4 linked regions of the Homo sapiens genome follow. The protein of the gene in region 1 purifies or fractionates together with the protein of each later gene. This does not show direct contact. Each region holds a gene or a part of one and is shown on either strand. Other genes may lie near its edges.

Region 1 (3,500 bases):
TAAAATCTGTTGTTCTGAGCCACCCAATTTGTTGTGCTTTGTTATGGTAGCCCTAGGAAACTAATATACGGCACGATTCCTGAATATTTGAAGGAACTGCTGGCTTTATAAGGGGTGATTGGAAGAGGATTGGGACTAGACAAGCATGGCAATGAGGGAACCAGATGTGGAGCAAATGGGAGAGATTTTTAAAGGCATCCTGGAATTTCTGGGAGAGAGGAAGGTATTTAGAGAGAATTTTGGCATGCTTTCTGTGCAAAGACCCTAAGAAGGCCCTTTTAAGAAAACTTAGGCTAGATGTCTTGATTATTACTCAGGGTGTCAAGAGTGTGACTTGTGTTTCCCTTGACTGTGTCTCCATGGTAGTCTGAGCCATGCAAGTCCTTGGATTCCATCAGGTTACACTACAGAAGCTCCATGCTATTGCATTTCTCTTTGCTTTGGTGCTGGTTATGATCCCCTTATTCTAGTAGTGTTGGCAGTCCTTTGAAACTCATGTCAATATCGTCTTTTTGGAGAGCCAGGAACTTCTTTTATGGTCGTCTGGCACAAACAGGTGGTCAATAAGTGTTTGTCAGTTCGATAAATGGATAAGAGTGTCTAGCCGCCCAGGGTAGGTAAGGTGCTCCTCATTTCCCTTTCTTGTTCTTACCTCCAATAGGGCACCTATTACATGGCATTCTAACTGCTTATTCACTTGTTTGCTGTCCTGTATTCTGTAATCTTGCTGAGGACTGAGAATGTCTCATTTGAGTTTTTTTTTTTTTTTTTTTTTTTTTTTTTTGAGACAGAGTCTTGCTCTGTTACTCAGGCTGGAGTACAGTGGTGCAATCTCAGCTCACTGTAACCTCTACCTCCCAGGTTCAAGTGATTCTCCTGCATCAGCCTCCTGAGTAGCTGGGATTATAGGCATGCGCCACCATGCCTGGCTAATTTTTTTTTTTTTTAGTAGAGACAAGATTTCACCATGTTAGCTAGCATGGTTTTGACCTCCTGACCTCATGATCCTCCCGCCTAGGCCTCCCAAAGTGCTGGGATTACAGGCGTGAGCCACCGCGCCCAGCCTTGAGGTTTTATCTCTAATAGCTAGCAGAATAGTTGCTACATAGTATATGTTAATGTTTCCTCAACAAATAATTAATGAGTGAACAGGGCTGGGAGAATTTTGGCATGCTTTCTGTACCAAGACCCTGAGGAGGCCCTGTTAAGAAAACCTATAGCAGATGTCTTGATTATTACTCAAAGTGTTGAGTGTGACTTGTGTTTCCCTGGACTGTGTCTCCATGCATAGGCTGTGCCACTTGGAGTCCTTGGATTTAATTATCCTTATTTTACTGAGGAAGCCCAGAGAGGGAAGAAAGGCAACTTGTTGGTTGAACAGAGCCAGTTACTCAACCTCCTGGTGGTTCTGTTTAGTCCTCGGCATGACCTTGGCTGATCCGTCTCATCAACTTTTGGCAATTCCACATAATGTTCTTGCTCCCAGTATTCTAGTTCAGTGTTCCTTTTTTTCTTACTCTGTCTCCCAGGCTGGAGTACAGTGGTGCGATCTCGGCTCACTGCAACCTCTGCCTCCCAGGTTCATGCGATTCTCCTGTCTCAGCCTCCGGAGTAGCTGGGACTACAGGCACCCACCACCATGCCTGGCTAATTTTTGTATTTTTAGTAGAGACGAGGTTTCACCATGTTGGACTAGGCTGGTCTCAAACTCCTGACCTCAGGTGATCCACCTGCCTCAGCCTCCCAAAATGCTGGGATTACAGGCATAAGCCACTGCGCCTGGCCTAGTTCAGTGTTCTTGACCATCTTTTTCCTTTCTTGGAATGTAGCCGAGCCCCAAGGGAGCTGGGTTCTGGAAGGAAAGGGTAGGAAACTCACTGCCATGCCTTTCTGTATGGGCTGATGCATCAGGAAGGTGGTGGGGAAGAAAGAGAAAAGCACGATGCTCAGGAGAAAGCTTTGCAATTAATGGCGTAATAACCTTATAAAGTAGGTACTATTGTTATCTCTTTTTATAGACAAAGAACCTGAGGCTCAGAGGGTAAGTGGCTTGCTCAAGCATAGCTTAATTCATTTCAAGAAAGAGACTCAAACTCAGGTCTGCTGGACCCAAGATGCTACCCTTGGCCCTGAGCACAGCTCCTTGATGCCTCCCTGCGTGCCGTGCTCTGAGGCCTGGGCTGCTGAAGGAAAGGCACCATACACGGGAGCTGTTACTGTGAGCCACTGTAAGACAGCATAGCCCAGCATAGGCTGGGATTGTGGTCAAGGAGGCAGTCAAGGTCAGAGCCAGATAAGCTGCTCTGACATCATATCCAAAGTGTGAGCAGCAAGAAGTGAGGCTAGGTGGCCCCTGCAGAGCATGAGGCAGAAAGTGGGCTGTAGAGAGTCAGGACGAGCCATTTGTGATCAGGACCATGATCAGCAGGATGGGGCCCTGCTGTGTGTGCGGGGAGCTGGCTGAACCAGGAAACAGCCTGCCTTAGTTCAGGGGCCTTTTGGAGCTAGGTCAGGTCTAGCTTAGGGGAGAATTGCTGCTGCCCATGTGCATTCCTGGATCCCTAGAGGAACCTGTGCTGGGGCAAAAGGACCAGAGAGGATGAGCCAGGTATCTTGGGGACAGTCAAAAAGACATCAGTTTCCAGCTCTGCCACTTAGGAGCTATGTGTTCTGGGGCCAATTACTTAACCTCCGTGTGGCTCAGCCTCTTCATCAGTACCCACAGGTACCTAGTACCTGCTTCTCAGGCTTGTGAATGACATAGGAATGAAAAGCACCCAGCACTTATACCTGGAAAACAATAGGCACTCAATTCACAATAGCTGTCTTATTATTATTGTCACTATTAATGCCATTAAGTCATTGTAAGGCCTGTGCTCACAGGGACAGCTCATGCAGTAGAAAGGGCATGGATTCTGTAGTCAGGACCTCCCAACACCCCCCGTCTTCTGTAAAAGCTTGACCCACCATCATGTCTGGGAAGGCCACCTTCTGGATCTGAGCCCGGTGTATTCCTCTGTAAAATGGGGACAATAGTGCCTGATTTGCAGGGTCACGAGAGAAGGGATGCAAACACCAGCCCAGGTCCCTGCGTACAGTGGGTGCTCACTGGTGAGTTCCTGATCCTGGAGAGCTCACAGGAAGGTCCCACCTCCTCCTGCGCACATAATCAGGGGCTTTCTCGGTCAGGGCTGTCAATAGGGATCAGGCTGGCTTGAAAAGTGGTTTGGGTGGGGCTCTCAGGCCTTTTCCCAGGAGTCAGATTGGAGGCGAGGAAAGAGATGGAGGAGGATGAGCCCCCGGCAGGGCTGAGGGTGGGCAAATGGGGGTGTGAAGCAGAAGTGCTGCTGGAGATGAGAGATGGGCAACTGGGGACTGGGGATTGGGATGAAGGAGGGTCAGAGGCGGCTGACCAGAGACCCGGCAGGGGACCCTCCCAGGGTGGAAGTCTGCTCACAAGAGGCCTCACTGGGCAGCCTCTCTGCTTCTCCAGCAGCTGA
Region 2 (3,500 bases), on another chromosome or scaffold:
AATTCAGTCACATAATCAGGCTCCACTTCTAATTCCAGTTCTCTTGCTATTTCTATCACATCTACAGTTACATCCTCCATTGAAGCCTTGAACACCTCAAAGTCATCCATGAAGGTTGGAATGAACTTCTTCCCAACTCCTGTAACACTGATATTTTGACCTCCTTCCATGAATCACAGATGTTCTTAATGACACTAGAATGGTGACTCCTTTCCAGAAGGTTTCCAATTTACTTTGCCTGGATCCATCAGAGGAATCACTACCTATGGCAGGTAGAGCCTTATGAAATGTATTTCTTAGATAATATGACTTGAAGTTGAAATTACTCCTTGATTTACGGGCTGCAGAATGGATATGGTGTTAGCAGGCATGAAAAAAAAGTCCCAGATAGCATCTTCTTCCAATGGAAGGCTGTCTCATTAACATTGAGAATTTGTTGTTTAGTATAGCCACCTTCATCAATGATCTTAGCTAGATCTTCTGGAAAACTTGCTGCAGCTTCTATGTCGGGACTTGCTGCTTCATCTTGTATTTTGATGTTATGGAGATGGCTGTTTTCTTTAAACCTCATGAACCAACCTTTTCTAGCTTCAAACTTTTTTCTGCAGCTTCTTCATCTCTCTAAGCCTCCATAAAATTGAAAAGAATTAGGGTCTTTCTCTGGTTAGGCTTTCGCTAAGGGGATGTTGTAGATAATTTGATCTACCCAGACCACTAAGACATTCTCTATGTTAGCAGTATGGCTGTTTTGTGTTATCATTAGTGTGTTCACTGGAGTAGCACGTTTACTTTCCATGAAGAACTTTTCCTTTGCATTTATAATTTAACTAGCAAAAGAGGTCTACCTTTTAGCCTGTCTTGGGTTTTGATATGCCTCCCTCACTAAGCTTAATCATTTCTAGCTTCTGATTTAAAATGAGAGATGTGCATCTCTTCCACTTCAACACTTAAGAGGTCACTGTAGTTATTAATTGGCTTAATTTCAGTAATGTTGTATCTCAGGGAGTAGGGAGGCCCAAGAAGTGGGAGAGAAAAGGGAGAAGGAAGAGGGAGCAGTCAGAATAGACACAAAAATTAAGTATGCCATCCTATGGGCACACTCCAAAATGATTACAATAGTAACATCAAAGATCACTGACTGTAGATCACTGTAACAGACAGAATAATAATGAAAAAGTTTGGATACCAAAATGTGAGAAAGAGACATGAAATGAGCACATGCTATTGGAAACACGTTCAGCTGATAGACTCGCTTGATGTAGGGTTGCTAAAAACCTTCAATTTGTTAAGGAAAAAAAAGTGCATTATCTATGAAGTGCAATAAATCAAAGTGTAATAAAATGAGGTACACCTGTACTTTGTCTTCATCGAGCACTTCTCATATTTGCCAAGTTCCCACTGATTGCTGAGTAATAAGAATAAAGTTAAAATATTTTAAATACTGTATCATCACAGCTCAATGGGATGTTGTGCCTAACAGTGACCCAGAATAGAATTATTACATTTCAAAATGCAACTTTCCACTTCTAAACTATACAACTACAGCTACTGTCTGTTAATATACATACAACTCCAGTTAACAGCTTCTATTAGCAAAGTAAAATGTAATTACTTTGCCTGTAAGGTACAGATTAACTTTTTCCCCACAGGTCTATCTTATACTTGAAATGTAGGTGAACACTGAGTCCTGTACCTGTTTCTAATTAGCCTGAATTAGTTGCACGTATTTAGAATACCATGCATGTTTTAATGTCTTACTGTAATTTCTGAAATTTTTATTTTAAAATATTAACTAATTTTAACATGGAATCATATGGAAATCCTTTAACCAAAAGCAGATTACCCTCGCCTTTTTATCTTGAATGTGAAAGCACATTTTTACAATGTTAAATTTTTTAAGTGAGTAAAATTTGTAATTTGCATCAGGTCATTTTACAGATAAAATATAAACTGCACTATTGGCTAGATATCACATGTTCAAATCTATAATTTTAGCAAGTATGTATTAATGTTTTGAATTGTTAAAAAAAAGTCAATCTTTTCAAATAAAGTGATTTTCCAAGGTAATGTCTTATTTAGGGCTTATATTAAATTTAATCCCCGCAATCCTTACTGTATTATGTAGGTCTCTTATTTTATTCTTTCAGAGTTTACAGTAGCTGTCAGAATTGATTAAACCTACTTAACCTATGCTGCATATAATAGAAGAGCTTAGAAGGCATTTGCTTGTTGACTTTCTAGAGAGCCAGAAATGATAACATCTGCTTAGCAGAAAAATGCCTGGGAAAGCTTCACTAGAGGGTCCTTCTCTATCACAACAATGCTCCTGCTCATTCCTCTCATCAAGCAAGGTTAATTATTTATGAATTATCTCTGAAGTTTTGTGGCTGCAATTTATCTTGAACTACCATTTGGGGTTCTATATGAACTATTAACAGTTCTTAAGCTTTTCTGCATAGTGACACATCTGAAAAAGTGTGAACCCATATACAATATAACTATCAGTGAAGTCTCATTCTAGGTAGACTCATGGATTAGTAAGCTTGCAAGTTTTGTTCAGTTCCTCTATCTGTAATTCCGATGTTTTCTGAACCATTGGTACACAAAACACTTACTGATATATTAGGAGATGAGAGACAATAAAAACCACACAGGAACAGCTATAGGTTTATATAACTCACACGAGAGTTATGATTCTACCAGCTTGTGACATGAGCATTAATTCTATTAACAATCCAAATGAATCAAATTGTCTTATTTGCAGAACACAGGAAAGATGTATTTTCTATTCACTTAGAACATGTTCAAGTGTTCACCTAGAAGGCTTTTAACAAAGTAACACATTGAACAGCTATTTTGTATGTGAAGCTCACCAGCATGATGTAGAAAATAAGATTAAAATGCCACCCTTGGCCAGATGTGGTGGCTCATGCCTGTAATCCTGGCACTTTGGGAGGCCAACGTGGGTGGATCGCCTGAGGTCAGGAGTTCGAGATCAGCCTGGCCAACATGGTGAAATCCTGTCTCTACTAAAAATACAAATACAAAAATTAACTGGGTGTGGTAGCGGGCACCTGTAATCCCAGCTATTCAGAAGGCTGAGGCAGGAGAATCGCTTGAACCCAGGGGGCAGAGGTTGCAGTGAGCCAAGATCGTGCCACTGCACACTGGTCTGGGTGACAAAGCAAGACTCCGTCTCAAAAAAAAAAAAAAAAAAAAGCCACCCTTGCTTAGAAGGAACAAACTGTATAAAATCAAGTAGCTGTAATAAATTTTTAACGATAATATATGAAAAACATATAGATTTATATGTATTTTTTGCGACTGGTACGCTATTTTAGTTTTCTTTTTTTTTGTGGTGCCATCATGGCTCACTGCAATATCAGCCTCCCAGATTCACGCGATTCTTGTGCGTCAGCCTCCCAAGTAGCTGGGATTACAGGTGCGTGCCACCAGGCACACCTAATTTTTGTATTTTTAGTAGAGAGGGTTTTCCCCAT
Region 3 (4,083 bases), on another chromosome or scaffold:
TACTAAAAATACAAAATTAGCTTTAAAAATTAGCTATTAAAAATTAAAAGACGATAATGAATTCAAACACAATGCCTTAAAAAACCAAAAACTACGAAAAACAACACAAAACTCCACAGCACTGAGTGGACCACTGAAAACCTGCCATGGGCAGGCTGGACGTACAGGCCCCAAATTTGTTAGCTTTTCATCTCCAAGGGCACGAATGCAATTGTGCTGCCGAAATGTCTCGCCTTTGAGAAACGCGTGTGTGTGTTTTTCCCCTTTCATTATTAGAATATTAGGTTTTAAATGGCACTGGCAAACAGCCACATAAAATTTGTGATTTTAATAGAATCCCTTCAATTAAGGAAACGTGCAAATACCACTATGCCAACAGCAGTCTGACTCGGCCAGACAGATAGGATATTGTCATCATCACCGCTTCAAAGATGACTTAACGCCCCTTAATTTCACATCCTTTGTTCAGGCAAGATCACAGCATGAGCGGCTGGACTTAAAACTGTAATAAGTATAACGTCTCCCATTTACTAGATACTTACACTGTAAGGAAACCATTATCACCCCCACTTTACAACTGACGAAAGAAGTACATAAAGGTTGGTGATATGATTGGCAATAGAGTTCCCAGGCGCCTAAGCTCCAGGGCGCAAGGTCTCAACTCCTGGAGTCTAAGTTTATACCTCCCATAATAATACCGTCCATTAGTTACTCTAGAGTCCTCCTGCCTTGTTTTTCTTAACGTTTTACTTCTCTGCAAGAACATATTTTAAAAAGTTGCTTCTACAATTTAAAGTACAAAAGTAATACTGTACAGGAGTAAGTCTTTGTAAAATATTTAAAGAAAATTATATTATACAATAAAACCCCGCCCCCCTGCATTCGGGGCAGCGACGCTGGGGGAACGACTTTAGAATTTGCATTGGGTGGACAGCAAATACTTCCGTAAAACAGACCATGAAGCTTTCCACTTGGAGCCCACTGTGGCCCCAATGCCTTTCCCTTTCGCTCCTGCTCCAGGCTCCGCCTCCGCCGTGTCCGGGCTGCTCGCCCCGCCCCCGCTCGCCCCGCCCCCGCTCGCCCCGCCCCCGCTCGCCCCGCCCCCGCTCGCCCCGCCCCCGCTCGCCCCGCCCCCGCTCGCCCCGCCCCCGCTCGCCCCGCCCCTGGATTTGCTCCCTCAAAGCGGAGGTGAGGCCGGACTGAGGCTCTTACAGTGGTCCCTGCTGGCCCTTGGTGACGGGTCGCGTCAGTTCCGACCCGGACCCGTACGCTGCTGCGCTGACGTGGCTCCTGGAAGCAGGGCTGGCGTAGGGCCGCCATGTTGCAGCAGGTGAGGGGCTGAGGGCGCGCTGGGAGGGTGGCGGCTCCTGGGACTGGCTCTGCAGGTTCCGTGGGACTGGAGCCCGCGTCCCCCGCGCCCGCTACTCGAACTCGAGGAGGAGCGGGGCGGCCGGGAGTGGAGGGCTGTGGGTAGTTGTCTGAGGAGGGCTGCTGGGGGTTCTGAGGCCGCTGGGGGAGGCGTGACCCGTGCGGCGCAGAGCAAGTACTTCTTGCGGCTGTGGGGACGCCCATTGTTAACCAGCGCGAGTGGGGGTCTCTCTTTCCTCAACCCTTATTGCCGGGGTGGAGTTGAGGAGGAGCGGCCTGCGGGCCTCTTAGCTTCCTGACACCCAGGGGTGCGATGCTATCTTGTAGGAATCGGCGACACCGCCAGAGCCTCGCTTTCAAATTGCTGTTTCCAAACTAATGTTGTTGGTGATTCTCTCCTTTGTGCTCTTAGAGTTAATTGTAGTCCACATGTTGGCAACCAGAGACTCGTAAGATTAATAATATTTTTAGAAAAAACTACTGTTTATGGTCACTTAGATTGTCTTAAGTGTTTTTTTCTTTCGGTTCACACAAAATTTGTTGAGGGATTACTATGACTCAGACACGGTTGTAGGCCCAGGGATAGGGTTGTGACCAGTACAGACAGGTTTCTTGCCCCGTATTTTCGGGTTAGGGAAGTGGGTTCTAGGAGATGGGGGTTGGGTGGGGAGACACGATAAATTGTATAACCAAAGATATTTTCAGATAATTGCAAAGGCAGGGTGATGAAATAACAAGTGTCCGAGGATAGGACAACTAAGATTTATGGTCAGGAAAGACTGCTTATGAGGAGATGCCTTGAGTGGAGAAAATCTAATAATGGTTAAATTCAGCTGTATTACAGGAAAGGTGTCCCGATCCAGACCCGAAAAGAGGGTCCTTGGCCGGGCGTGGTGACTCAGGCCTGTAATCCCAGCACTTTGGGAGGACGAGGTGGGTGGATCATGAGGTCAAGAGATCGAGACCATCCTGGCCAACTTGGTGAAACCCTGTCTCTACTAAAAATACAAAAATTAGTTGGGCGTGATGATGCACGCCTGTAGTCCCAGCTACTCGGGAGGCTGAGGCAGGAGAATCGCTTGAACTGGGGAGGCCGAGGTTGCAGTGAGCCGCGGGCCACTGCACTCCATCCAGCCTGGCTACAGAGGGAGACTCCGTCTCAAACAAAACAAAAAAAGTCTTGGATCAGGCAAGAAGGAATTCAGGGTGAGTCCACAGTGCAAAGTGAAAGCAAGTTTATTAAGAAAGTAAAGGAATGGCTACTCCATAGAGCAGCCTGGAGGGCTGCTGGTGGCCCATTTTTATGGGTATTTCTTAGTGATATGGTTAATAAGGGGTGGATTATTCATTCCTCCCCTTTTAGATCATAGAGAGTAACTTCCTGATGTTGCCATGGCATTTGTAAACTGGCATGGCGCTGTTGGGAGTCTAGTAGTGAGGACGACCAGTGGTCACTCTCGTGGCCATCTTGGTCTTGGTGGGTTTTGGTTGGCTCCTTTATTGCAACCTGTTTTTTCAGCAAGGTCTTTATGACCTGTATTTTGTGCCGACCTCACATCTCATCCTGTGATTTAGAATGCCCTGTCTGGGAATGCAGCCCAGTAGGTTTCAGCCTCATTTTACCCAGCTCCTATTGAAGATGGAGTTGTTCAGGTTCACATGCTTCTGACATTTGAACCTGCGCCCAGGCCGGATGAGGCTGGAGAAACACAACCATGTTGACTGTTCCCACTATTTATTTATTTATTTATTTATTTATTTATTTATTCATTCATTCATTCATTCATTCATTCATTTATGAGACGGAGTTTCACTCTTGTTGCCCAGGCTGGAGTACAATGGTGTGATCTCGGCTCACTGCAACCTCCGTCTCCCGGCTTCAAGCGATTCTTCTGCCTCACCCTCCAGAGTAGCTGGGATTACAGGCGCCCGCCACCATGCCCGGCTAATTTTTGTATTTTTAGTAGAGATGGGGTTTCACCATATTAACCAGGCTGGTCTTGAGCTCCTGACCTCAGGTTATCCACCCGCCTCGGCCTTCCAAAGTGCTAGGATTACAGGCGTGAGCCGCCAGGCCCGGCCGACTGTTCCCACTTGATAAGTTTGTGATGTGAACCTCAGTCGAGCCCTTAGTGCTGCCAGGCGGTCATTCTACATTTCCATAGCCCCTTCACCCTCTCGCCTTAGGCAACTATTAAAACTCAAATCTTCAACGTTTCTTCTCTTATCCTCTCTCAGCTGGTAACGTTGCTTCTTGTTTCACTGAAAATGGAAGCCGTCGGAAGACAATTTTCACACTAGCTGCCTATTTATTTGCATGTTTACTCAGGGTCTCATATTCTTTTATGATAATTGGACTGTCAGTGCTCCATTCTTAGGTCTTCCTGTCTACTGTGTCCTGGTTTCCATCTCCTCTTGCCTACTGGAAGGCATTGTTCTAGTAATTCTCTTTCTTGCATCATCAGTTTTTTAATCCTTTTAAACGTTTGCTCACATCAACATATAAACGTGTTTTAATTTCTCTTACCTTAAAAAATGAAAACTTGGCCGGGTGCGGTGGCTCACACCTGTAATCCCAGCACTTTGGGAGGCCGAGGCGGGTGGATCACGAGGTCAGGAGATCGAGACCATCCTGGCTAACACGGTGAAACCCCGTCTGTACTGAAAAACAACAAATTAGCCAGGGGTGGTGGTGGGCAGCTGTAGTCCCAGCTA
Region 4 (3,500 bases), on another chromosome or scaffold:
TAGATCTCCATAAATCTGTCTATACAACTCCATTTATTTTATACTGCCATTTGAATATATCTTGATCAGAACATCTATATATTAAAAAAAGAAACACATTCCAAACCCATAGAGAATAAACTTAAAAAGGCACAATCGTATTTTAATGTAGCACCTCAGCTTCTTTTCCTGATATTCAATTTCATACATACCCAATATTCCAAACATAAGACACTTCTTTTATTACCTAGACTGTCCAACCCCGTGACATTGGACATGTTACCTCTTCTTGCTTACATGTGTCTCCTTCATTAAATGAATACTTAAAGAGCGGGAATTGCTCACATACCCACATTTGTTCCTCAGCTGGCAGTTGCTGGCACATAGCAGTAGAAGCTGAAAGATACATCTCAATAGATACTAAGCCAAGACACATTTTCTTTATCACATACTAATTTAATAATATATAATTAATTTTATTCTTTGTTTTTTCTTTTAGTTACTTCAGACAAGTTTTCAGATTCAAGGTATTTTTTATTTATTATTAAAACAATATAATAGGGGAGGGATGGGGACAAGGGTTGAAAGCTACCTATTGGGTATGATGTTTACACAATTGAGAATTGTTGGATGAGAGGATCATTAGAAGTCCAAACTTTAGCATCACACAATATACCCATGTAACAAGCCTGCACATGTACCGCCTGCATCTAAAAACACATCACCACATGAAACTAATACTGAAGAAATGCTAAAAATGGTACCTTGGCAAAGGTGTAAATTCACTAATTATGCCTTCTGCTCCAAGTGTGACTCCCTGGACAATAAATGTACTTCCCATTCCTTTCCACAGGGCTCTAGGTCCCTAAATTGAACAAAATTCATGTTATTTCTGTTAATACCTACATCTGAAACACAAAAGATCTTAATAAAACTTGATATTGTGTAGACATTTTCCAATAAAACATTATTCTAATAGAAATATTAGTAGAGAACTACAATTAATTTTATATCATTTTAAAGTTATACTTAGGCCAAGAAGAACATTCCTATTAATTAAAACCCCTAATGATTAACTAATTTATTAAATATCCCTAATATCTATATATTCAACTCCCTACTAGTCCTGTCCTGTGGATGACACAAGGTAACTTGAAACTTACATATCCACAACTTAACCCAATCATACTCACTCATACCACACCAATTCTTTCCTTCTCTGCTGTATTTCCTATTTCCCTAGATAGCAGCTTCATCATCCTAGTGTCCAAACAATATATCTAGAAAACATTTTTATCTCACTCTTCCTATCTAATCAGTCCCCAGGTTCTACAAATTCTACTCCCTTAGTATCTTACAAATCCATGCTCTTCTCCATACTTAACACTATTACTTTATATCAATTTGACTACAAGTTTCACTGTCTCTGGTTTTGCCCCTTTGCATGATACCATCAGTAATACTCCTATTATTTATCTATATTATCTATATTATTAATAGATATACATGATAGAATTAAAAAGAAGCAATAGGGTATCAGCTGAAAAGTCTGTCTCCTTTTCATCCCAGTCCTCAGCAGCAGTTTTAAAATTTATCGGGATAATCCATGCATATACAAGTATATCTGTGTGTGTATGTTATAGAAATATTTTTGTTTTGCTTATTTTTAACAGGTAGTATTATCTTGAAACATAAAAAATATCCTGGAGATCATTCCACATTAGTATACACAGAGCTACCCTCTTATTTTTAAAGGTTACAAGGTGTTTCACCATAATATACCATAATTATTTCACTGGTACCCTAGTGATGGACATTTAATCATTTCCAGTCTATTATATGCAATGTCATAGGACATCCTTGTATATATATTTTTGCATATATATGTGCACATCTATGTGGGATAAGTTCCTGGAAGTGAAAGAACATGTACATTTTAAATTTTAATAGATATTGCCAAACAATCCAAAGGTCTTCAAGATATTTTGGTCATGGCTAAAACACCTTCAACAGTACTCTTGTAGCTTTTAAGATCTAGTAGTGTGCAGTTCTTAGAAGGTGCTTTAGAATCTGGATCCTGCTTACTTCTCTGGCTACTTTTTCATCTTTCTCTTACTCTTCAACCCCCACTTCAAGCTCCCATTGTACTCCATTAAATCCATTCCCAAACATTATGATCTCTCTTTGTCTTCTGCCTTCACACGTCTACTTTAAAAACCTTTTCTCTATCCTCATCATGAAGAGTCAGACTTCTCAACAAGAAGCACACAATTCGGGCCTTTCTTTTCCCAAAGTTTTTCCCAGCCATACACTGTGCCCAAGCCCAGTTTTGATAAGGTACTTCTCTTTTGTATTCTGACAGCATTCTGTACTTCTAATATTGCCTTTATCTTACTGCAGCACAATCTTCAAAGATTTTGTCTCCATGAATAAATATGAGCCTCTTGATAGCAGAGACATCATCTTAGCACAGCTCTTTGTGGTTTTGCTAAATTAAATTGTACTTTTGCTAAATTACATTTTGAAAGATTCAAAAACATATCGTTGTGCTACTTTAGTTTTACTACAACAGTTAAGATGTTTTATTGACCAAACTGAAAGTAATTATTCTTGCTTTAATGATTACTAAACCCAAATGACACTTATATAAACCTTTAATAGAATCCAGACAAAATTCTCACCTGAGTTTTGTTGAAACTGTACATAATATTGATGACTGTAAATGGAGTGAGATGGTAATGCTGAGCATGGTAATTAACCTGTAAAAAAGATATTTCATTATTTTTTTCTGTTAATGTTTTGTCAAGAAATAACAGAGCCATGAAAGAAATATGGTGGAATTGCAGTATAAACAAAAGTTAATTCCAAAGTCAACATAAATTACACATAAGCAAAATTACTCTTAAAAGTGCTTTAAATAACCTATTAAAAGTACAGTATGTATGGTTATATAAATACAATCTGAAGACCAATGCATAATACACACAGTACTGTAGACTATATAATAAAGAGGGTCTTATTTGATATTTGGTTTGCCTTAAACAACTGAATTACATCTCCCAACTCATGTTCATTTTAGGCAAGCATTTTTCAAACTGTACTTGGCAACTGACTGGTATATGAAATCAACTGGGGGAGTGTCAAAACAATATTTATTATGTGAAACAATAAAATATTAGAATGTATTACATTCTAATGGTATTATTTCATAAAACATTTAAAAATAATATATTTGTTACTTATATGTAATGTATCCATTGGATCTCCATGTTAATATTACTACAATGTAAAATATATATCTGAAATACACTGTTCTGTGGCACATACAGTCAATGCTACTTTAATGGTATTTCTGTATACATACTTTTCAGTGCTAAGCATGAACAGATTAATTTATAATGATTTATACTGTTTTGAACTCTAACAGCTAACAAATACAGGAAGCATTACTTTACAGAGAAAGTGGGTTATAACAGGACGGGCGCAGTGGCTCACACCTGTAATCCCACCACTTTGGGAGG

Evidence for each region.
Region 2: the proteins of SLC22A8 (region 1) and DNAJC10 purify together in Homo sapiens (affinity purification with mass spectrometry; one large-scale study listed by BioGRID and IntAct). This does not show direct contact.
Region 3: the proteins of SLC22A8 (region 1) and TVP23C purify together in Homo sapiens (affinity purification with mass spectrometry, with the first as the bait; one large-scale study listed by BioGRID). This does not show direct contact.
Region 4: the proteins of SLC22A8 (region 1) and SLC25A46 purify together in Homo sapiens (affinity purification with mass spectrometry; one large-scale study listed by BioGRID and IntAct). This does not show direct contact.

The regions. Positions count from the first base shown.
Region 1 is NC_000011.10:63,005,842-63,009,341, forward strand, and holds part of SLC22A8 (organic anion transporter 3), read right to left. Parts: intron 1-3,500. UniProt on the Homo sapiens protein: Functions as an organic anion/dicarboxylate exchanger that couples organic anion uptake indirectly to the sodium gradient.
Region 2 is NC_000002.12:182,722,757-182,726,256, reverse strand, and holds part of DNAJC10 (dnaJ homolog subfamily C member 10 isoform 1 precursor), read right to left. Parts: intron 1-3,500. UniProt on the Homo sapiens protein: Endoplasmic reticulum disulfide reductase involved both in the correct folding of proteins and degradation of misfolded proteins.
Region 3 is NC_000017.11:15,560,684-15,564,766, reverse strand, and holds the start of TVP23C (Golgi apparatus membrane protein TVP23 homolog C), read left to right. Parts: upstream 1-1,283; 5' UTR 1,284-1,318; coding exon 1,319-1,330; intron 1,331-4,083. Other genes in the region: TVP23C-CDRT4 (uncharacterized protein LOC100533496), read left to right, coding at 1,319-1,330.
Region 4 is NC_000005.10:110,745,507-110,749,006, reverse strand, and holds part of SLC25A46 (mitochondrial outer membrane protein SLC25A46), read right to left. Parts: intron 2,739-3,500; coding exon 2,661-2,738; intron 845-2,660; coding exon 744-844; intron 1-743. UniProt on the Homo sapiens protein: Transmembrane protein of the mitochondrial outer membrane that controls mitochondrial organization.